3 separate regions of the Homo sapiens genome follow, and regions 1 and 2 are each linked to region 3. Evidence: fine-mapped expression QTL. A gene starts in region 3. Each other region holds a variant in brackets. All regions are shown on one strand. Distances are from middle to middle.

What was found. PIP is the estimated chance that this variant, and not a neighbour inherited with it, causes the effect.
Region 1: its variant is the best candidate, but not a certain one, in a credible set for the expression of GNAI1 in lymphoblastoid cells (TwinsUK, PIP 0.66).
Region 2: its variant is the best candidate, but not a certain one, in a credible set for the expression of GNAI1 in left ventricle (GTEx, PIP 0.62).

What each region holds. Positions count from the first base shown.
Region 1 is chr7:80,103,269-80,111,456 of GRCh38, forward strand. No RefSeq gene overlaps it. Among named protein-coding and RNA genes, the nearest start is that of GNAI1, 27 kb to the right of the region's middle. The variant A/C (reference allele first, on the strand shown) is at 3,275.
Region 2 is chr7:80,322,590-80,330,777 of GRCh38, forward strand. LOC105375373 (a long non-coding RNA gene) reads right to left here. Exons shown (of 5, transcript XR_007060401.1): 5 at 7,604-7,938. Among named protein-coding and RNA genes, the nearest start is that of GNAT3, 190 kb to the right of the region's middle. The variant A/G (reference allele first, on the strand shown) is at 4,861.
Region 3 is chr7:80,130,826-80,139,002 of GRCh38, forward strand. It overlaps GNAI1 (G protein subunit alpha i1), which reads left to right and starts at 4,006. Exons shown (of 8, transcript NM_002069.6): 1 at 4,006-4,453. The coding sequence starts at 4,336.

The sequences.
Region 1 (8,188 bases), 28 kb before region 3:
ATAGATTTATTTCTGGTCTCTCAATTATATTCCATTAGTCTATATGTCTATTCTTGTGCCAGCACACTGTTTAATTACCATTGCTTTGCAGCGAGTTTTGAAATTGGAAAATGTGAATCTGCTTACTTTGCTCTTCATTTTTTAAAATTATTTTGGCTATTCTGGGTTTCTTGCAATTTCATATGAAATTTAGAATCAGCTTGTCAATTTCTGCAAAAAGTTTGTTGTTATTCTGTTAAGAATTGCATTGATTCTGTAGATAAGTTTGGGAAGTACTGCTATCTTAACAATACTGCTATCTTAATAAATAATTGCTATCTTAACAATAAATAATAATGAATAACAAACATTCATTGTCATCTTTATTATATATCCAAATAATACATAATCCAATAATCCAAACAATAAGTAAACCTTGCAACCCATAAGTTTAGGTTTTTTAAAATTTCTTTCAACTCTATTTCATAGTTTTCAAAATATACATTTAGCACTTCTGTTATTTATTTCTAAGAATTTTATTTTTTTGATACTAGAGTAAGTGGAATTATTTTCTCAATTTCATTTGCAGGTGGTTAATTGCTAGTATATAGAAATAAAATAGATCTTTTTATATTAATCTTGTATACTACAACCTTGTTTATTATTTGCTCTTGTAAACGTGTAATAGTTTTTAGTGGGCTTTTTAGTATTTACTATATATATACAACATCATGTCATCTGCAAAGAGAACTAGTTTTACTTCTTCTTTTCCAGTGTGGATGCTTTTCTTTTTCTTGCCTACTTGCCATGGCTTGACTCTCTAGTGCAATACTGCCTAAAAGTGGTGAGAGCAGACATCCTTTCTTGTTATTTTGCATGGTGTTGACTGTGAGATTTTTGTAGCTGCCCTTTATCAGGTTTAGGAAATTGTCTCTATCAAGAATACTTGACTGGAGCTCTCCATTCTTCTGATCCACTGTGGACAGGTTGCTCTCTAGGAAAGCCACACAGCAGTTGTCCTGGAATTTCCCTTTATTGTCATCCTTAAAATTTTACTGATATTTTTCTAGAATTGATCATTTTTGCTGAATACTACCTCTGTCTTTCTTAATTTACTTCCTTATTTGTTCAAGTATATCCTCCAATAGCTTCCCATGAATTAGTAACTGACATATATTTCTGCATTTCTAAAAATGACTTTAATTTATTCTCATCATTGATTGATAATTTGGCTATCAAATTATTCATCAAATATCATTTTCATCAATAATTTTGAAGACATTGCTCCAAGGTCTTCTATCTTTCATTATAGCTTTTGAGAAGGCTAATGCAATTTGGATTTCCTGTCTCTTGTAGGTGACCTTTGTTATTTTCTCTAGAAGCTTTTTCTTCTTGATGCTCGTTATTTTGAAATGTCACATTTTATGTGATTTGTGAGGTCTGCCTTTATTTTTTTATGGGCCACTTGTGCTGGACACCTACAATTTGGAGATTCATGTCTTTCTAAAAATTGTTTTTTACAGTTCTTGATAGTTAATCTATTTTGTTTTTTCTTTTCTCTATATATTTTATATAAAATAGTTGCTGAACCTCACGAATTTTTCCTTTCTTTTCTATGTTTACTATTTTCACATTTTGTGTGTGTCTGTGTGTGTGTGTGTGTGTGTGTGTGTGTGTGTGTGTGTTAAGTTTTGGTCCTTGGCTTTATCTTTCAGTCCTTTTATAATGTTATTTATTTCTATCATAGTTTTATTCTCTTTTCTTTCCTTTCCATAGCATCCTACTCTTGTAATATCTCATTGAGAATATTAGATTATTTTCAAATTTTAAAAACTATTTCCTGTATTGTCAGTTTCCAATGGGTATCTTTGTTTTTGTATTTGTTATGGTAGCTCTTTTTTATTACTTTATTGTTTTAATATTGTTTTAGTGAGGTTTGCAGAGGCAGAAAAATACTGTGTGATCAGTCATTTTTTTAAAAAAAAATATACTGGGTTAAATAGTATCCCCATATAATACATGTCTCCTGAGAACCCATGAATGTGGCCTTATTTGGAAATTGCAGAGGTAATCAACTTAAAATGAGTTCATACTGGAGTAGAGTGAGCTCTGAATCTAATATGACTGGTGCCATTATAAAAAGAAGGTAGGCCAGGCACAGTGGCTCATGCCTGCAATCCCTTTGGGAGGCCAAGGCAGGTAGACCACTTGAGCCCAGGAGTTTGAGACTAGCCTGAGCAACATAGGGAGACCTTGTCTCTACTACAAAAAAAAAATCGGCCAGGCCTGGGCATGGTGGCATGCATCTATAGTCTCAGCTACTCAGGAGGCTGCGACAGGAGGACTGCTTCAGCCCAGGAGGTTGAGGCTACAGTAAGCTGTATCATGCCACTGCACTCCAGAGCCTATGTGGCAGAGCAAGACAAAGACAAAGAAGAAGAAGAGGAGGAAGAGGAAGAGGAAGGTGGCAAAGAGGAGGGATATTGGAACACAGAGATAGATACACACACAGGAGAAATGGAAGGAATGTGAAGACAGAGGCAGAGGTTGGAGTGATACGTCAACAAGCCTAGGAACACCGAAGGTTGACGGCAATCACCAGAAGCTAGAAGAGATAAGGAAGGATCCTGCCCTAGAGCCTCAGAGGAAACATGGCCCTGCTGTCATCTTGATTTCAGGCTCCTGTCCCCAAGAACTGTGAGAAAATAACTTCCTGTCATTATAAGTTACCTGGTTTTTGTACTTTGTTAAGGCAATCTTAGGAAACAAATATCCTCTTCCTCATTAAAGTTGGATGTAGAATTTAGCAGGAACAGAAATATTAACTTGCTTTTTTAAAAAATGTCTCAGATTAGTTCCTTTTAAACCTTCCTTTTTTGAGAAAGAGAAAACTGACACAATCCAGAGTCTAGCACCTCTTCCCTATAATCATTACCAATGTTGTAAAAGTTTGGCTGCCTCTCCCTGTTCAGTGGTTTCTCCTGGCCTGTTCAGTTCAAGCAACACTAGCAGTATTTTCCACCCAATGACATGTGAGTAGAATAAAACAGTTCTTCCTATGGTGATAATTGAAAATAAAATTATAGTTTTATATATTTAACTAATTAGAAGTTTAGCTAATGACTGCTTTTCATATATAATTTTAGGGTCTGGGCAGTTTGACGGCTTTTTTTTCTAAATCAGATTGGCATTCATTTTTCTTTTATGTCTAAGAATTTGTTCAGCTCTGCTACTAATTTTACTTAAATATTTTTGTTTCAAGACTAGTGAGAGATAGAAGGAGATGTAGGAAACG[A/C]AAAAGAAAGCCAAAAAAAGAAAGTTTAAGAAGGAAATACTCAACTGTCTAGCAAATGCCACATAATCCAAGTTAAATATTACCTAGAAACTGTTTTATGTGGAGGGAGTTAATGTCATCTTTGGTGTCTTAAATACTGTCAGAGGCCAAATTGCAGCAGGCTCATGATTGCATTGGAAGTGAAGAAATGGATATGTTTAGAGTGCTCTACCCTTTCAAGAAGTTTTGTTTCAAAAGGAAGGAAACAGGGGCAGTTATAATACTTTCAGAACAGAAGTGACTAAGAGTGCTTACACTCAGAAAACAAAGGGTCTGAAAGAGCCAGTGGAGCTGAGGAAGTTGAAAATATAGGACAAAAGGAAAGATAGAGATGAGATAAAGAGATGGAGTGATAGCAATAAAGAGTTAGAGAGCTGATAGAGAGAAAGGAAGAGGGGAGAGAGAAAATTGGTAGAGAGATTATCTTGAGCAGGAGGGTGTACAAATATCCAGAGAACAACATTGATTAGCATCAGTTTTGGACATAAGCACAGCCCCTGAGACTAGAAAGAGAAATAACTGATGTGGACGCAGCTTTGTTTTCATGGAGTTAAGTGAGGAGGGACAGGAAATTGAGAACTCTTGACTTTCTGTGGAATTAGAAGGCAAAATCATGTGCTGAGTGCATTTATAGAAAGAAACTAAATAAGCTAAAATCATTATTTTACCTTGAAGTCAAGGTAGCAATAAAATGACAAAATAAGCAAGTGCTCTAAGAGCTCTCTTTAAAACAACATGGAAAGAGAATCATTGAGTAACATCGAGTGTCCTAAACACATGGCTTCTTAGTAGGCCATTAACAGAATTTATGGATTTCACACAGCCCATCCATCTTCTATTTTTAGTTCATTTACAAAACAATAAATGACAGGTACAGACTGTGGTTTCAGATGCTAAGAGACTGGTAAGTTCTGCTATTTTATCTCTGAAGGCTGTAAGTATCCTGTTTTGGTTGGAAAAAAAAATAGTGCTTCCTCTAAAAGACATCCATTGAGGATGTGGCTTTTTGAGGTACAGTTTTGCTTTTATTTGCCTAAGTGCTTGCTCTTCAGAGTGTAAGAAAAAGCTGCATGGAAATTATATTTGACTTCATCTGGTCACACTGTCTTATTCCAGAAAAAAATTAGTACAAGAAGTATGTAGCTCCTGTAGATAAAAGTTCCTGATATAAATTTCTAAATTCAGTAAAATACAGATAAGTTACTTACTGAAGTATTTTATATCAAACTGCTTATTTAGAAAAGAAAGTGCTTTCATCACCTAAGCATATAATTTATTCAATCGTCTCAATTAAAGGAATGCATTCATAATTGAACATGGCACAAATGTTTGCTAGAATACTAAGAGACACGCAGAATAAGACTCTTGTTTACAAAAAATAAAATGTATAGAGACATTTGTAAAACACAAACATTCCAGGAAGAATTGAAAAAGTATTTTTATAAGTATTGCTGTTTCTATTTATCCTTGCTTTTGCTATGTATATAAGTGTATTCTAGACAAAAAGGGAGAGTAATGGCATAGGTACAATTTTTGTATTCAGCTTAGGCACATAGCTACTTGTAGCTGGCTCCATTTCCAAGTGAAATCATACAGTAATTGGTATGAGCCAATCCAAACTTGGATAAAAACTCTGTCTATTTCTAGCAAGTTAATCAATCCTACCATTATGCTGAACCACTTTGTGATGCTTTTCTTCCTGTCCATTGGGTTACTGTGAAAAAGCAAAGTTGCATTAAATGTGGTATCTGTCTTCTTGGCTTTTACTTTTTCTGCCAATGATTATTTCTGAATGGATTTTAGTTTTGCAAATTATAGCACAATGTCAGGGTCAAGAATGATAAGATGAAAAATATAGAATTATGGAAATGATCCTAGCAACACACAAAAACTTTTATTGTACGTATGCAAATGAGACTGCTTTAACTTAAAAATCAAATAGAAATTGAGCATTCTGATTACCATAGAAATAGAAGAACTGAGTTATTTAAGTGCCCATTTTCTTAAAATAGCAGGGTAATATCAAGGCATTTTGATGTTTGTTGGGAGCTGGAAGAAGCAGTATGTGGGCTGAAAGACCTTATATACTTCATTCAACATATTAATTGATAATAAAACATTACTTTCATGATATTTTATAATTTTCATTTTATACTAGATTGTTTTTCTTTAAAAATAGAAAATACAACAAGTTATTTTTAAACTGTTACATAATAGAAAATTTCTTTTAAGTATCCAATAATTAAACCAAGTGGAAAGTAACAAATATTTATAGTAATAAATCGTTTGTAACCATACAAGAGTACATACACATTGGACATCAATGTTATTGTTCATGAATTCTTGACTACTTTCCATATTTAAAAATATTTTCACAAACGTGGTATGCAAACTGAGTTTAGCGTTCACAGCCAAGAAAACTAGATAAGCCATAAATGTATCACTTATGTTAACACAGTTGTACATACCTAAATACCTGATAATAACGCACATCAAGTGATTAACTTACTGGTTTGTAATAATTTGGGTATACTCTGTTTTTAAAACAGAAAGCTCATTTTGATGGTCCTACATTCCTAGGCAATGCTGGGCCCACAGATTACCCCTGAGAGCACATCAATATATATTACCAAGGATACTTATCAAAATTTGTATGTTTTTGATACATTCATAAAACATTCCAAATTATTAGCATTTTGGTTTGTCTTCTAGAGCCTTCTTATTCAAATGCATCCCTGAATCAGCAGTATCCACGACTCCTGGGAGCTTGTCAGAAATACAGACTCTCAGGCCCCACCTCAGCCTTGCTGAATTGTGATTTACATTTTAACAAGATCCCCAGCCCAGGTGATTTGTGTGCACATTAAGAGTTTGAGCAGAGATGCTCAAGGAATTAAAAACCTAGTATATTGGAAGTTTTAAAGGTTTTCAGGTGGCGTAGGAAATAAATAAATTCCAAAGAAAGGCAGCCCAAATCATATTCAACTTTTTCACATCTTAAATTCTCTTTAGAATCTATATGTTGCAATTTGGCCATTGAGTGAGTCAGTTAAACGAACAGGCACAGTTCAGGATTTTGTAGAAATAAGAGACTTTATTATAAAGTACTGTAGTTTGGAAAATTTTTTTGAAAATAGAAAAAGATATGAAAGGATGATTAGCAATATGTTTTCTGGTTAATTTCTTCAGCATTTTAAATCACAGTTTCAATAATATTCAATCTGTCACTGAATCAAAGGCAAAAATCCCTAAATAATGAAGTGATTAAGCACTCCATTCACTTTCATTGCATTAATTGAAAATATTTCCAAAGCTAAAGAAGTTGTAATGCAATGGAAAGTACACAGGACTTGGTCCTATTTCAAAAATTGTCTAAATGTATGTTCTGGAAGTTTTCCCACCATCAGGTATTGCGTTCTGTATAAACATTTTTTGAATAAATGAATTAGTGAGAAATCAGAGACAAAGGCTATTCTTTCTAGAATGTACTGTAACAGGAAAAGATAGAAGGCAATATTCCAAAGGAATATGTATTCAAAATATTTTTGACTGTTTATTAATCCAGAGAGCCCATTTGTTATTTTAAAATAAGAATTGCATTATCGGCCGGGCACGGTGGCTCACGTCTGTAACCCCAGTACTTTGGGAGGCCGAGGTGCGTGGATCACCTGAGGTCAGGAGTTTGAGACCAGCCTGGCCAACATGGTGAAACCCTGTCTCTACTAAAAATACGAAAATTTGCAGGGCATGGTGACAGGCGCCTGTAATCCCAGCTACTCGGGAGGCTGAGGCAGGAGAATCGCTTGAACCTGGAAGGTGGGGGTTTCAGTGAGCCGAGATCGTGCCATTGCACTCCAGCCTGGGGAACAAGAGGAAGATTTTGTCTCAAAAAAAAAAAAAAAAAAAAAAGAATTGCGTTATCAAGAAGAAAGGATACTCATGTTTGCTAATCAGCACATTCTCTTCCTGGGGAAAATATGTGTCAGAAGCAATGTTATAATCAGAAAGTTACTGTGAACCCAAAACATTAGATGGATGATTATAATGGCTACTGCCATCATGCCTGAAAAACTGATAAATAGCTTTTTGCCTTAAGATTACACTAAACCCACAGAATAGATGCTTGTCTTTGCGAGTTCAGGGCACCTCTTCATGTGGTCAGTTATAGAGATATTTTGTTACTATTTGCCCTTCTGATTCTTGTTTCTTTCTTTTGGAAAAAACTGCTTGGAATGAAAGCAAGAACGGATTAAAGGAGGCCAATTAGGAGCCAATTGCGTGTGTGTCTGTGTGTGTGCATGTGTGTGCATACAAGTGACCTCAAGTAAAATTTGGCTTGGACAATCTTCATTTACTCCTGTTTAGCATTTGTCCAGGATTTTTTATTTTTATCAAAGTATTTGTATCAATATTTGCATTAAAATAATCAGAGATGAGTTAGATCTACTCTTTGTATTCCCAGCTTGTCAGTTGGTCAGGCGCATGGTTATATATTTAAAACAATATGCAATAGCTACCTTTTCTAGAGCCTTTCCATATTTAGTAAAACTAACATCTCCCTTTCAAACAGCATATAGTATGCTCACTGAGAAAACCAAGTACATTTGGAAGTGAGTGGCTAAGACAGTCAACTCTTTGCAGTTTCAGGTGGTGATGGGAGAAGTTTTGAAGCCGCAGCCTCTGCCAGACACTTGGTAAACTAGCCAGCTCTGTCATGGCAAATACCACAGACTGGACAATGCACGAAATTACCAGTCAACAGTCAGCAGGGTCAACAGGAAATACGGCAAATGAAAGGTTAGCTATATATGATATTTCTACTGTATAATGTAGAGAATATAATCTCTTGGTACAGTAATTTGGTCATTTATTGTA
Region 2 (8,188 bases), 190 kb after region 3:
CAGGCCAAATCTAATGAGACTAGGCATATTTTGTCAACAAGAATCAAAATGGAAGTAACTGTAGAGATAAATTTTATGTATTGATAAAAACCTATAGTGTACCCTTGTGGGTTCTCAATTCTTCTGGTTTCCTCTGACGTGGCTACAATTCTGAAAACTAAAGTTTCCAATTTTTCTCCCAGCCTCCTGACTTGGAGTTACTAAGAAATAAAACTGCTCTTTTCTGAAGCTGGGTGATTTAATATAAACTTTGAAGAAATCACTGCAATAGATCATGTACGGGCAAACCTTGTGCCTGCTTCTGTGTGAGCCACTCAGAAAGTTCATCAGAACTCCTGATGCCATCACCAAAGACATTCAAAACACAGACAAGGACATCTGTGGGACTGCCACTTTCGTCCTTGAGAAAAACATTTAGAAATTTTCTCAATTGGCTGGTCCCTGGACTCAAACGAAGTTTCCAACTACTTATCCTTGTTTTACTTTAATTTTCATAGAAATTCCTTTCATTGTATTCCTGACTGTTAGCACTATTCAGCAAATATCCTCTACTAGCAGCTTCCAAGAGATGGTTCAGCTAATCCTTAATGAATAAAAGGCAACCAAAAAAGAAATGCACTTACATTGTTCCAAGGAAAGAAGAATGTATCTTCTTCCCTTTAACAAGAGGAAGAACTGACATTGATTTTTCCCTGGACCAAATTTTAGTCGGCTGCTGTGAGCCCCACTAGGCCTTGTCCTTGGGAATATCCTCCAAGAGCCTAATTTTAGCAAGAATTCTGCTAAGTAAGTTCACCAGAACCCCCCACCCTTGATATCTAGTTACCCTCTAATCTGACCAAACTCTTCGTCCATACCATCCCTGAGTTGATGTCTGATCCCCTGGCCTGCCTTCAGCAAGAATCATAATAGGTGGGTTCAGCCAAAATCTATCTTTACCTCTGATGTGTTCCTCTTAATAATTTTCCATCTACCAACTACACGCTCTTTAACCATAAATTCCCACTTTTCCTTGTATTCATAATTTTGCCCAATTCTATACTGAGATATCTTTTCCCCTGTTGAAGTAGTTTCCAAGTAAATCCTGTTTTTACCACCTTAACTATTGTTAGGGTCTCATTTTTCTTTGACAAAGGGAACCAGCTGTACAGAGAGTCTAAGGAGAGAGATTCTTTAGGACTCTTTGGAAGAAATAATTTTGTTATGTAAAAGTAAAGTGGGGTGAAGAGTGGGAAATCTTGTGTTTCTGTTTTAGAAAAAAAAATTTCTGACTTTAGAATATATATTTTCTATTAGGTAGTCTGCTGTCTTGTATTTGGTTGATAACTTTGGTATTGGTTGTTTTAAACTAGAAATAAGATATGCCATGTAATTTTTTGCTTCTGAATTTATTTGTTAAAATTGATTCAACTATTGTCTCTGTGCAGGAGAAACAATGTAAATGGATTAAATGTTTTTTGAGGCACTGAAAAATGGTCATTGAGCCAATATATTAGTAAGATGGTGAGATGGTAATGGCATTGAGCTAGATCTTGGTGATAGAGTTCTGTGATTAATATAACCGCAATGGAAACACAGAAGCTAGTTTACAGATGGGTAGCAGAGGACACATACTTATAGAAAAATTCAATGGCAATTTGCCAACATCAAAGTCCAGGTACAGAATGACAATTATCCAATTAAGAAAGTATGTAGACAATGTTGGATCCATGTGAATGTTTCTAATGTTCGTGGCATTTGGATTGATGCCAGTGGAATTTGGCCCAGTAGGAACCAAGACTACGATTCAAGGAAATGATGTCTTAGGAGGATGAAATTGCAAAGGTAAAAGCCCCAGACAATTAGGCACCCTCATTCACAATGGGGACTTTCAGATATTTCCTAAATTTGCAGGAAAACAGGAAAGCTACTTTTCAAGAAGGGCAACATCCATGAGGATTTTATGTTGTATATCTTAGGTTAGCAGCATCTATTTAGCAATGGAGGCCTCTTTGGGTTATTGATTTATTTATTTTTATAATTTCTTATATAAATGAAAACAGAGAACATTTAGATTCTGTTTTCCAAATTATGTAACCCTCCTCCTGAAGCTTGGTACTGAGAAAAGCCATGACCCTACTTTTTCCCCATAATTAAAATCTGGCTCTAATTAAGTAAAAAGTAAAGCATTCTTTAATATGATTGCCTTAGTACCCTTAAGGCATTTCAGATTACTTAACACTAACGGTAAGACATAGATCTTGCTTGTAATACTAATGGTAAGACATGGATCTTGCTTGTGATCTTGCAGTTTGCTTGGACAAATTTTTTTTTTTTAATCTTCATCTTGTGAGGCCTCGGCAGGTTTTAATGAACATTTCTAATTCATACAGTTTGTCTCTTTTAACTACCTTCTGTAAACATCTGTAGCAGCTGGCAACTTTTTACACACTGAAAACACAGAAAAGGGGCTGGGTGCAGTGGCTCGTGCCTGTAATCCCAGCACTTTGGATTGCTTGAGCCCAGGGGTTTGAAACCAACCTGGGCAATATAGTGAGACCCCTGTCTCTACAAAAATTTTTTAAAAAATCAGGGCCGGGCATGGTGGCTCATGCCTGTAATGCCAGCATTTTGGGAGGCTGAGGTGAGCAGATCACTTGAACACAGGAGTTCAAGACCAGTCTGGGCAATACAGCCAAACCCCATCTTTACCAAATAAATAAATAAATAATAATAAGCCAGGTGTGGTGGTGCATGCCTGTAGTCCCAGCTACCAGAGAGGCTGAAGTGAGAGGGTCACCTGGGCCTGGAAGGTCAAGGCTTCAGTGAGCCATGATCATGCCACTGCACTCCATTCTGGACAATAGAGTGAGATCCTGTCTCAAAAAAAAAAAAAATTAGCTGGGCATGGTGGCACCTACTTGAGAGGCTGAGGCTGGAGGATCACTTGAGCCTGGGAGATCAAGGTAGTGCATCATTATTGTGCCACTGCACTCCAATCTGGGTGATAGAGTGAGATCCTGCATTGAAAAAGAAAAGAAAGAAAGAAAGAAAGAAAGAAAGAAAGGGAAAACTTTTGTTGTTAACGTTATATATATTGCACAAATAATATACATTCATTAGAAAAAATTAGAAAATAAAGCAAAAGAAGAAAACTCATCTATAATCAAAACACTGAGACAAGTAACTAATACCTTTTTGATGTGGAGTCTTCATACTTCTCATACATACATAACTACAAAATATGCACATATTTTAATTGTAAGTTGGAACAAAATCTGCTTTCATATAACTCAATCCTTTATCATGAACACATTTCCATTCCTTTTTGATATGTAAGTCTTCATTCTCAGTAATACACAGAATTCAAATAGTGGATTTATTACTTTTTTCACTTAAGCATCTATTAATGAATATTAGAGTTGTTCTTAATTTTTCACTAATGAAAGAACTCTACAATGACTATTCTCTTGAATATATCCTTGCCAACATGTGCAATTATTTCCTTATGATATAGTACTAGAAGTAGAATTTTTTGATCAAATTTTAAACGTTTTTTTGTTTATGCTATGAAATTACCTTTTAGAAATTTTGTACCGACTTCAATTCTAAAGAATGTTGGGGGAAACGACATAAAACATCTTACAGATCTAGGGCAAGTACGAAGATCTAAAAGAACTATCTCTTTGCAAAACATTATGCATTTTGATGTGTACTGTACATTAAATCAACTTTTTTTAATTCAAACATGCAAAAATTTACAGTTCTTTCAGATAAACTGCTCTCTCCTCTTCAACATTTGGCATAACAAGTACTTTGTGCAAATACTCTTCAAATTTTGAATGAAAGGGAAGAATCACAAATATGCTTTCTAAAAACCATTACTTCGAAGAAGAAATCAACCCCACAGAAATACAATCATAAGAGAATACTATAAACACCTCTATGCAAATAAACTGGAAAATCTAGAAGAAATGGATAAATTCCTGGACACATACACCCTTCCAAGACTGAACCAGGAAGAAGTCGAATCCCTGAATAGACCAATAACAAGTTCTGAAATTGAGGCAGTACTAAATAGCCTACCAACCAAAAGAAGCCCAGGACCAGATGGATTTACAGCTGAATTCTACCAGAGGTACAAAGAGGAGCTGGTATCATTTCTTTTGAAACTACTCTAAACAATTAAAAAGGGTGGACTCCTCCCTAACATTTTGAGGCCAGCATTATCCTAATACCAAAACCTGGCAGGGATACAATGAAACTTCAGGCCAATATCCCTAATGATCATTGATGTGAAAATCCTCAATAAAATACTGGCAAACAGAATCCACCAGCACATCAAAAGCTCATCTACCACGATCAAGTTGGCTTCAACCCGGGCTGCCAGGCTGGTTCAACATAAGCCAATCGATAAATATAAATCATCACATACATAGAACTAAAGACAAAAACCATGTGATTATCTCAATAGTCACAGAAAGGCCTTCAATAAAATTCAACATCTCTTCATGTTTAAAACTCTCAATAAACCAGGTATTGAAGGAACATACTTCAAAATAATGAAAGCTATTTATGACAAACCCACAGCCAATATCATATCGAATGGGCAAAAGCCAAAAGCATTCCCCTTGAAAACTGGCACAAGACAAGGATGCCCTCTCTCACTACTCTTATTCAACATATTATTGGAAGTTCTGGCTAGGGCAATCAGGCAAGAGAAAGAAATAAAGGGTATTCAAATAGGAAGAGAGGAAGTCAAATTGTCTTTGTTTACAGACGACATGATCCTATATCTAAAGAACCCCATTGTCTCAGCGCAAAAGCTTCTTAAGCTGATAAGCAACTTCAGCAAATTCTCAGGATATAAAATCAATGTGC[A/G]GAAATCACAAGCATTCCTTTACACGACAACAGACAAGCAGAGAGCCAAATCATGAATAAACTCCAATTTACAATTGCCTCAAAGACAATAAAATACAGAGGAATACAGCTAACAAGGGAAGTGAAGGCCTTTCCAAGGAGAACTACAAGGTGCTGCTCAAGGAAATCAGATAAAACACAGCAGATGGAAAAACATTCCATGCTCATGGATAGGAAGAATTAATACTTTGAAAATGGCCATACTTCCCAAAGCAATTTATAGATTCAATGCTATTCCCATTAAATTAACACTGACATTCTCCACAGAATTAGAAAAAAACTATTTACTAATTCATATGGAACCAAAAAAAGATTCATATAGCCAGGACAATCCTAAGAAAAAAGAACAAAGCTGGAGACATCACACTACCCAACTTCAAACTATACTACAGTGCTAAAGTAACCAAAACAGCATGGTGCTGGTACAAAAACAGGCACATAGACCAATGGAACAGAATAGAGAACTCAAAAATAAAACCACACATCTACAACCATCTGATCTTCTACAAACCTGACAAAAACAAGCAGTGGGAAAAGGAATCCCTATTTAACAAATGGTGCTGGGAAAAGTGGCTAGCCATCTGCAGAAAATTGAAACTGGACTCCTTCCTTATACCTTATACAAAAATGAACTCAAGGTGGATCAAAGACTTAAATGTAAAACCCAAAACTATAAAAACCCTAGAAAAAAATCTAGGCAATACCACTCAGGACATAGACATGGGGAAAGATTTTATTATGAAATCACCAAAAGCAATTGCAACAAAAGCAAAAATTGACAAATGGAATCTAAGTAAACTAAAGAGCTTCTGCAAAGCAAAAGAAACTATCAACAGAACGAACAGATAATCTACAGAATGAGAGAATATTTTTGTAATTTGTCCATCAGACAAAGGTCTAATATCCAGAATCTACAAGGAGCTTAAGCAAATTTACAAGAAAAAAATAAACAACCTCATTAAAAAGTGGGCAAAGGACATGAACAGACACTTTTCAAAGGAAGACATAAATGTGGCCAACAAACACATGAAAAAAATTTTAACATCACTGGTCATTAGAGAAATGCTAATCAAAACCACAGTAAGATACCATTTCACTCCAGTCAGAATGCCAATTATTAAAAAGTAAAGAAACAACAGATGCTGGAAAGGTTGAGGAGAAATAGGAACACTTTTACAGTGTTGGTGGGAATATAAATTAGTTCAACTATTGTGGAAGACGGTGTGGTGATTCCTCAATATTTTAGAACCAAAATACCATTTGACCCAGCAATCCCATTACTGGGTATATACCCAAAGGAATATAAATCTTCTATTATAAAGATACATGCATGTGTATGTTCATTGCAGCACTATTCCCAATAAAAATGACATAGAATCAACCTGAATGCCCATCAATGATAGACTGGATAAAGAAGATGTGGTACATACACACCATGGAATACTATGCAGCCATAAAAAGGAACAAGATCGGCCGGGCGCGGTGGCTCACGCTTGTAATCCCAGCACTTTGGGAGGCCGAGGCGGGCGGATCACGAGGTCAGGAGATCGAGACCATCCTGGCTAACACGGTGAAACCCCGTCTCTACTAAAAATACAAAAAAAATTAGCCGGGCGTGATGGTGGGCGCCTGTAGTCCCAGCTACTCGGGAGGCTGAGGCAGGAGAATGGCGTGAACCCGGGAGGCGGAGCTTGCAGTGAGCCGAGATTGCGCCACTGCACTCCCGCCTGGGCCACAGAGCGAGACTCCGTCTCAAAAAAAAAAAAAAAAAAAAAAAAAAGGAACAAGATCATGTCCCTTGCAGGAACATGGATGAATCTGGAAGCCATTAACCTCAGCAAATTAATGCAAGAACAGAAAACCAAACACCGCACGTTCTCACTTATAAGTGGGAGCTGAACAATGAAAACACATGGACACAGGGAGGGGAACAACACACAATGGAACCTGTTGTAGGAGGGCAGGGGGGCAGGGAGAGCATCAGGAAAAAGAGCTAATGCATTCTGGACTTAATACCTAGGTGATGGGATGATAGGTGCAGCAAACCACCATGACACATGTACAAACCTGCACATCCTGCACATGTACCCTGGAACTTAAAAAATAAAATAAAATAAAAAGAAGAAATAAGATTATACAGGACAAATTACTTGGAAACTTATTAAAATAAGGATACTTCAAAGAAAAAGCTATGAAATGCGACTAAAGTTATAGTTAGTTTTCAAATATACAAACCATTCAACTTAAGGAGTTAGGAAAAAACAATAAAAGAAAATTGCTATCAGTTAGAGACAACGTATGTTTTTGCTTCTAATTTAAATTAAAGCCAAGTAGAGAGTAACAATTTAATTGTTCCATATATATATAAATGAGAATTTATAAGTAAGGATTTAATAAATATAAAAGATAAAATGAATGAGGTATGAATGATCTAAAAAACAAAACCAATAGCATTTGTAAAGTTAACGTGAATAAAAAGAGCTGTTAGATGATTTTTAAAGAACGGGCTTGGCAGCCAATATTTATTTATGTTTGCCTGTTTCTGTGATATTTTTCTATATTGCAGAAAACAAAGGTCCTTCTACGACTAATGAAATTCAATATCAAGAACTGGAAACATCTGAAGTTTTACCCTTCTTGCAAGCTATCATGTTAGTCTGCCACTGCTTCATGGAAGCTGCCAGAAGACATGAGACTCTTAGGCTAGATATTAATGACTTTATTATTCAGAACAGCAAAAACCAGAGTATCAGCATTTGCATTGGTTCTGGAAGACACAAATCTACAGGATAATACAAAGAAGTCTGGGTAATACCTGCACACATAATGGGGTGGGGTACAAGAGAGGAATTCTAAACATAGGGTACCTGAATCTTTTAAAATGAGCAGTAATTCTATCTGGTCTTCACCCTAGAGAGAGACATTTTCTCTGTCATTTGCTATATAAACATCCTTCAAAAGATAATTTGAAATAAAGTCAGTGAGTGCCTTCATTTGCAAGATGTCCAGAAATGTGAGAGACCCATGGAAAACAGTCTCCTAGCAGAAAAAAAGAGAAGGAAGCACAATTAGTGAGTAAGCAGCTGATTTGTAGATTTGTAGGATTATAATAAAGCAGATTGAAATTTTTGCCTGCATTTTCCCAATATTATCCAGCTGAATCACCCACTTTGATGCTGAAGGCAGCTGAGGAAATAAGTAGTGGTTTCTTGCAATTCCTTACTTCCCAATTTCTTGAATCTAACAGATCTTTGCTGTCTCTTCCAAACCAGGTTTTCAAATTGTTTTG
Region 3 (8,177 bases):
TTTTTCCTTTGTCCCATAACTGTATCAGTCTGTTCTTATGCTGCTAATAAAGACATACCCAAGACTGGGCAATTTATAAAGGAAAGAGGTTTAATTGACTCACAGTTCAGCATGGCTAGGGAGGCCTCACAATCATGGTGGAAGGCAAAGGAGGAGCAAAGTCACGTCTTACATGGCAGCAGGCAAGAAAGCTTATGCAGGAAAACTCCTACTTATAAAACCATTGGCTCTCATGAGACTTATTCACTACCAGGAGAACAGTATGGGGGAATTTGACCTCATGATTCAATTATCTCCACCTGGTCCCACCCTTGACATGTGGGGATTATTACAATTTAACCTGAGATTTAGTTGGGATCACAGTGAAACCATATCAATAGCAATCCTTTTTTCTCAGTTGAATAATATTTGAGAAGAGTTACAAGTGAAATGAAACAAATTCCAAACCTACCTCTCCAACTACCATCCCATGTGTCAACCCCTCTCCATGGTTAAGATTCTTGAAAAAGTCTCCTTATTCAGCTTCTGCATTCTCCATGTTTACTTCTTAATTCCATATGGTAAGTCTCCCATTCACAACATAGCAAGGCAAAATTTTGTTTGCTACAGGTTTCAACACCACCTTGAAGCCAGCTAAAAAAGTCTATTCCTTTTGATTTATGACATCTCTTCAGTCATATCTTCTCATTCCTACATTAAATATCCCCCAATTTCTTCAATTATTCCTTATGACATAGTTTGTAGCTACTTTGAAAACCTGAGGCTCTCAGCTGAATGTGTTCTAATTTGTCTTTTAACATATGTCTCTAACTCTCTTAACATATAATGTTCAGTATTATTCAGAAATAAGAAGAAATAAAGTACTGGTGGATGCTACATGGATGAACCCTGAAAACTTTATGCTAACTGAAGGCAGCCAGTCACAAAATACTGTACACTATATGATTCCTTTTATATAAAATGTCAGAATAGGCAAATCTAAAGAGACAGAAATTAGATTAGCGGTTGTCTAGATCTGGGGAAAGATAAAGGATTGGAGATGATGGCTAAGGAATGCAGAGCTTCTTTTTGTGGTGATGAAAATATTCTACAATTGATTGTAATCATGGTTGCACAACTCTGTGAATATACTGAAAGCCACTGAAGTGTACACTTTAAATAGGCAAATTCTATGGCATATGACTTATATCTCAAAAAAGCTTGAACCCGAGGGAAAAAAAAAAAAAAGCTGTTAAAAAACAAACATGATGTTGAAAAGAAAAAACAGTATTCTGAAGTAGAGTGCTTTAACCTCTATAATTTCAATTTCACTCTGTATAAAAGAGATAAATAAATAATATCTGCTTCATCTCCTTGACAAGGTTGAATCATATTTTGCAACATCATAATTACATAAGTTATTAGCTTGAGTGACTCTCACCACCTCACATTTGGATTACTAACACAATTCACTTGCTGGTACCCATTTGTTTTACATGTAGTGGTAAGAGGGTTTTTTTATTTCTTTGCTTTTTAACATCTAGTACCCAACTCAGGAAAGAATGTAAGGAGCACTTTGTACCCACTGTATCAAGTCCAACCCTTCACCTTAGCATTTAAAGCTGTCTTCCAACTTTGTCCCATACATCCCATCATTCTTCACACCAACTTTGTCCCACACATCCTATCATTCTTCACAACCAAACAACTTTCAGTTATAAAACCATTGTTTTCTCTTTCACGTATCTTGCATATTAACTGTTTAGCTGGTTATTCCCCTCAAACAAAATATACCCTATTATGGCCTGAATGTCTCCAAAGCCCTAACCCACAATACGATGGTATTTGGAGATGGAACCTTTGGGAGGTAATTAGATTTGGATGAGGTCTTGAGAGTGGGGCCTTTAAGACAGGGCCTTTATAAGAAGAGGAGAGACCAGACTGCTTTCAAGCTCTCTCTCTCTTGCTCTGCCATGTGAGGACGCAGCAAGAAAGAGGCCATCTGCAAGGCAGCAGCAGAACCCTCACTGAGGAACTGAATAAACTGGCACCTTAATCTTAGGTTTACCAGCTTCCAGAACGGTGAGAAATATATTCCTATTGTTTCAGCCACTCAGGCTATGGTATTTTTAGGGCAGCCTGAACTAATACATACTTCTTTAAACTCCCCACCAATATCCTGTTATCATTTCCTTCAAACGTTTTTTCAAAACTTTCTTATCTTAGAATTTCCCCCCATACTGATCAGTTCATTACTCTGCATTCTCTTAGGAATTGTGCTACATATAAATCTAATTTGCTGTTCTTATTCGTTTATGTATCACATTTTAACTCACCTATTTGACTAACTTCAAAGGATGGAAGTAATGTTACCTATTTGACAAACTTCTGTTACACATACTTCATTTCTCCGAAACACAAGTTTTGTAGTCATTTCTACCAATATTCAGCCAGCACTGCTTCTTCTTTTGCTGAAACTGTTGGTTCCACACTCTGGTCCGAACTTAATAGGAAAGACTCACCATAAAAGATAATTAAGAATGGCTAATACACAGTGTGTTGAAATTTGATTTCCTTAAGTTTAATTCCAGAGTTCTGATACACATTAGCATTTAGAGTGCCTAGAATTACAGTGTAGAAGGTGACTAAGTACATTTAAAGATTGTTCCTTTTTGTTGTTATATTACAAAAGATTATAGTTGAGGCAGATCTTGAAATTGCATCTCATCAGCCCAGCAGGTGGTGTGACTCCCATAGGAGAACAGGAAAGGACATGTCCCATAAGGAGGCAACTCAGTCTCTGCTAGCTCACAAGCGTGGTCTCAGTGACCTACTCGAAAGCTATTCTGCTTGTATCATCAGTTCAGCCTCACCTTGGAAAACTCAAGCCCAGTTTTCCCAAATGATTTTTAGAGAATAAGATTTCCAGATGAAAACCAGGGAGCATGTTCCAATTTTTAGTACATCAAGGACCATGTTTTTCCTTGCTACCAGCCCCATTTTCTAATCAGTTAACGCTTCCTGTGATATCTGTAGGGGAAAGGTGTAGTGCAACTGACAGGGAGAGATGAGATCTTAAGCCTCTGCTCATTCATTGGGTGCTGAGTAGCAATGCCTCCCGCGGGCCACAGGAACTTATCTCCGCCGATTGTTACAGCTGGAAGGATGGGGAGATAGCACCATAGATCCACTCCTCATTTTATGGGCAAAGAAGCTAAGGCCTGTAAAAATGGCATGCCCAATGGTACAGGAGTTACAAACACGGTCATAAATATTGGCTCCAAATTTGGCATGGAAGCTTATGTGCTGCTCTAGAGGAGATCTGCTACGATGTGGAGATTGGCTTGTGTGGGTGTGTTTTATTGCTCTTGTCATTTAAAAATACTTTTGATTATTTGTCTTCCATTTTTTTTAGGTTACGAGGAAATCCTTCAAAATGCGTTCTTGTGAAAAACGTGAGAGTGCAAGGAAAGAGGGAGGGATAGGAAGAAGGAAAGAGAAGCAAAAGGTAGGAAGAAAGTGACCTTGGTGCCCTTTTCTAGTCCCCTCCCCCGACTTTCCTGTTCTCCACTGTGCCCATCTCTGGTTTCACCAGGCTCCATTCCTTCCCCAGTTCCCTGTTTCTCACGGCCCTGAAACCAGCCGACAGGGATTTGCATTTTGAAAAACCTTGCGTGGCTGCCGGCGCTGGGCATGCTCAAACGCCCAGAACTGGCTTTTTTCGGCAACTTTGGCAGCTCTCCCACCCCCACCCGAAGGGGCAGGTACGCACAGCTCCCTCCGTGTGAGTAAACGGAAAGAAATTACCCCACTCCCGCCCAGGGCAGAAGGCCACAGCCCCGCGGGGCAGTGGCGCGCCCCGGGGACGCTGCCAGGGGGCGCCAGGCCCTCAGTGGTGGCGCGGCGCCGGGGTCCGGGGCCGGGGGGCGCTGTCCGAGGGCACGTGCGCGGGCGCGCGCTCTGGGAGTGGTCGCGGGGTGGTGGGAGGGGCGGGCAGGGGCGGGGCCGCGGCGGCGCGCGGAGGCCGAGCTCGGCTGGGCTTGGCGAGGCTGCGGCGCGGCCACCGGCGGGAGTGCAGCGGCCACTGTACCCAGAGATTCAAAACCCCAAACCCGGGACTTGGGGGCGCTGAGCCGGGCCGGGAAGCAGAGCCTGGTCGTGAGGAACAGCCGCCCGTTGCTGTCTGCCCCTTTGCGGACAGCGTCTCCCTCGACTCCGCTTAGGAAGTGGTGGGGGCGGCGTGGCCCCCGTCGGGAGGCGTTCGAACGCCCGCTAGGAGAGAGAAAGGATTCCCCTGTGCTTGGAGCCCGCACTCGGGCGCGGAGGGAGCGGCGGCAGGCTCTCGCTTTCGGCACCATGGGCTGCACGCTGAGCGCCGAGGACAAGGCGGCGGTGGAGCGGAGTAAGATGATCGACCGCAACCTCCGTGAGGACGGCGAGAAGGCGGCGCGCGAGGTCAAGCTGCTGCTGCTCGGTAAGGGCGGCCGGGTCGGGGCCCGGGGGTCGGCGGGGGACCGGGTGCGGCGCTGCGCGGCCCTCGGCGTTTGGAAACCCGGAGGGAAGGGGGAGGAAGCGCCCGAGGAGGCTTCTGAGCGGGAGCTGGGTCCGGCGGTGCGGAGGCAAGGCGGGTCCCCCTCTCCCGGTGTCTGGTCTCTCTCCGCCCCGGCGGGCGAGGACTCCCCGCGGCGGGGCGGGCGCGTCACTTCACTCGGATGCTTTCGTGCGACCCAGCAAAGAGCCCAGGCGCGAGTCCGAGGCGGCGGGTCGCGTGGAAACCCTTTGCTTTGAAGTTTAGCTCAGCCTTGTAAAGATGAAGGGGCATTCGCGGCTAGAAAATGAAAACACCCCCCCCCCCGCGCCACCAACCCCCTCCCGGAAAACCCTTCTTCGTGTGCGGTGTAGGTTGTGTTTCGACTGTGGTTTTCTCATGCCCAGAGTGCCACGTTTGGTGAAATCAGTGCACCTTTTGTGGGGCCTCTGAGATGGGGCTGAAGCGTCTTTCCTGTTAACTTCCTATGGCGACTCCTTAAGTGGTCAAGGAGCGCTGATTACATTCCCCCTGCGCTGAGAAAAGGCTGCGCTGGATGCTTGATTTTTCTTGCTGTGGGGGCATGGAAGCCACCCAAGTGGGGTTGGGAAGCTTTGCTTTAGTAGTAGGCAAGGCAGATACTCGAGTGGTGAAAACTGCTGTGAAAGAGCGAGAGGGTCACGCCAGACAACAGGGTTCTGTCTCCGCTGCCACCGTTTCTGATGAATGAGATTTGCCAGGTACACGCAAGGCTTTTATTTGTTCTTAGCACTGTTCTGTTCGTGAAACGCTACGTGGAGGTCTTTTCCAAATGTTTGACGGGGAAGAAAATAAAGAGTAAACCAGGGTTTTCACTGAGGGAAGCATTAGGAAAATCTTTACAGGTTAAGATTCGTGAGTTAGGGTTTTCTTTTGTTTGCATGTTTTCTTCTCACACTCTAGGTATTTAGATAGATGAAAAATTTCTCAGAATCTTCATTTGCATTTCCAAGGACTGCTTGTATTTTTATACCAGTTATAATAAAAAAGAAATGTTGCACAAACCTGTTTTCAGTAAGCTTCTGTTTCATTGGTTTAATGACTGCAGAAAAAATGGTGGGTTTTTTTTCTCCATTACTAGTAGGCTTGGGAGCAGCAAAGTTGGCATGACTAAAAGTAATAATGATCTGAGTCATTTTGCAAGTAAACTGTGAAATAACTTTGCATTTTAAAGACCTGGGTGGCTTTTTTCACCCTGTCGCCCCCAACATAAATCTTTCTCAGTTAATGTTGTTTGCCTAAGTTTTTACATTAATAAGAAATACTGTGTTTTGATGAGGTTAGTGTATGTACTTCTCTTGTGAATTGAATGTGAGATAGATATGAAATAAGAGGATTAAGAAGTTTTTTTCTTGCAGTTTTTGCTCTCCTGGTGTGATACGTTGTTTCAGTGTATTTCTGTGTGACTCTTAGTTTGAGCCAGCCATCCACCATGTTTAAAGCAATTGAAAAATGAATCATCTGGTGGTGGTGTTTTGTCCTTTAATTAGGTGACTGTTAGGGATGGACTAGAATAAAGGTCCCAGGAGTAGGCTTTTGCTTATGTTCAGAAGAGATCAGTGTGTCTTGATCTTAGCACGGTTGGCATTTGGGGCTGGGTAATTCTTTGTTCTCCAGGTTGTTTTTGTGCATTGTAGGATGTTCAGCAGCATCTTTGGCCTCCGCTCATTGGATGCTAGTAGCAGCCCCCTAACCTGTGAGCTCCAAAAGTGTTTCCACATATTGCTAGAAGTCCTCTGGGGGCAAAATACAGCGTTAGTTAAGGACCACTGTTCTAGATTAAGACTTAAATATAACTGAATGTATAATACAGAACCAGAAGTTGAATCTTGACAGTCATCATAAGTGAGTTCAGAGAAAGATGTAGCAGAGGCCTCATTTTCAGAAGAAATTATGGAATTCTTATTTCTTTTTCTTTTTTCTTTTTTTTTTTTTCTTTTCTTTTCTTTTTTTTTTTTTTTTTTTTTGAGACGGAGTCTTGCGCAGTCGCCCAGGCTGGAGTGCAGTGGCCCGATCTCGGCTCACTGCAACCTTCACCTCCTGGGTTCAAGCGATTCTCCAGCCTCAGCCTCCCGAGTACCCGGGACTACAGGTGCGTGCCACCATGCTCGGCTAATTTTGTATTTTTAGTAGAGACCGGGTTTCACCATGTTGGCCACGCTGGTCTCCAATTCCTGACCTCAGGTGATCCGCCCGCCTCAGCCTCCCGAAGTTCTGGGATTACAGGCGTGAGCCACCTTGCCCGGCCAGAATTCTTATTTCTCTAAACCAGTACTGGTACCATTGGAAATATTTCAGAATGATTTTTAGAAATCTTTAAGTGACTGAATTCTTTTGGCTGTCTTTTCTAGCTTTGGTCTTTTGCTTTTCCCTACCTCTCTCCTCTCTGGAAATCCTGGCTGTCCCTGCTGGCCCAGCACTCTCCTCTGTCTTATCCCCGTTCTAGTCTACCCTTTTGCCCAGAGTTCCATCACCCTAGTCCTGTAAACAGAATTCTGGCTTACTTATTCCAGAAATTCAATTCTTGGAATGTTCGAAAACATTGTTTTCCTAATTTGACTTTAGTAGTAAATTGTGACCTTTTGGTTCTTTTTTGAATCCTTAAAGCATATGTGTAAGCAGCTAAATGAAATAATTCCATGTAAAACACGGCAGTAGAATAAACTAGAAATGTAAAATCGTTTCTAGGTAACGTATAACCAGTGTCACAGCCATTTACATTAGATCGTGTTCATCTTCACTTATTCTGTTTTTCTCATCACATGATGTTTTTTAAATTTAAGGCATAAAATCTCTAAAGTACTTTTAAGACAGTCTGTTAAATATATTGCATTTTTTTCTTAAGGAATGTATTGTCATTTTAAACAGCTGGGCTGAGTAATTTAGATATGAGACTTGCACACTATTAGTAAAGATTTTGGCACTGTCTATATGATTTAAATCAGAGGTATTTCACTATACTGAGCAGTGAATTAGGCCTTAAAAAAAGAGGAGCTAGTCTAATCATTGACACTAAGGAAATCAGGCCAGAGTTTGGGTTGTTTGTCTTTTAGGTTTAGTTTTTATGCTTATTAGGATGATAATACTTAATAGAGAAACATTTTAAAGAAGTAAGTAATAATGAAAGTTTTTTATATAATAATGTCTAATTGTTGAGGAAATTATTTTTTATTGTTATATCTTTGAGAATGTTTTAATTTATCATCCTTTTAAGGGCAGTAAGATTAAGCTTATGCTTTATTTCGGTAGGTAACTATAGTATACTACTTGTACTTATGAAATATTATTTTATTATGTATTTGGAGGACATAAGATTTGACATACAAATAAATGATCATGAATTTATTTTCTGTTCCAAAGCTTTGAGCAGTATTCTCATTTATTCCACCTCACTGTCCTTCCTTCCGCTCCACTCCCCCTCATATACAAAATTCCACACCCTTGTCTCCTTCTTCAGCTTGGTTTAAATATTCCAGGTTTGGGGGAAAATGAGCTGAGGGATTGGATTTCTTCTGTTTGGTGGATATTTTTCTATTGCTGCCACCAGGCAGCCCTTTGGGATGCTGCATCATTAATCTTCACTCCTTTTGAACTTGCCCTGTGACTTCCCCTAGTTGAGAAATGTTGGCTA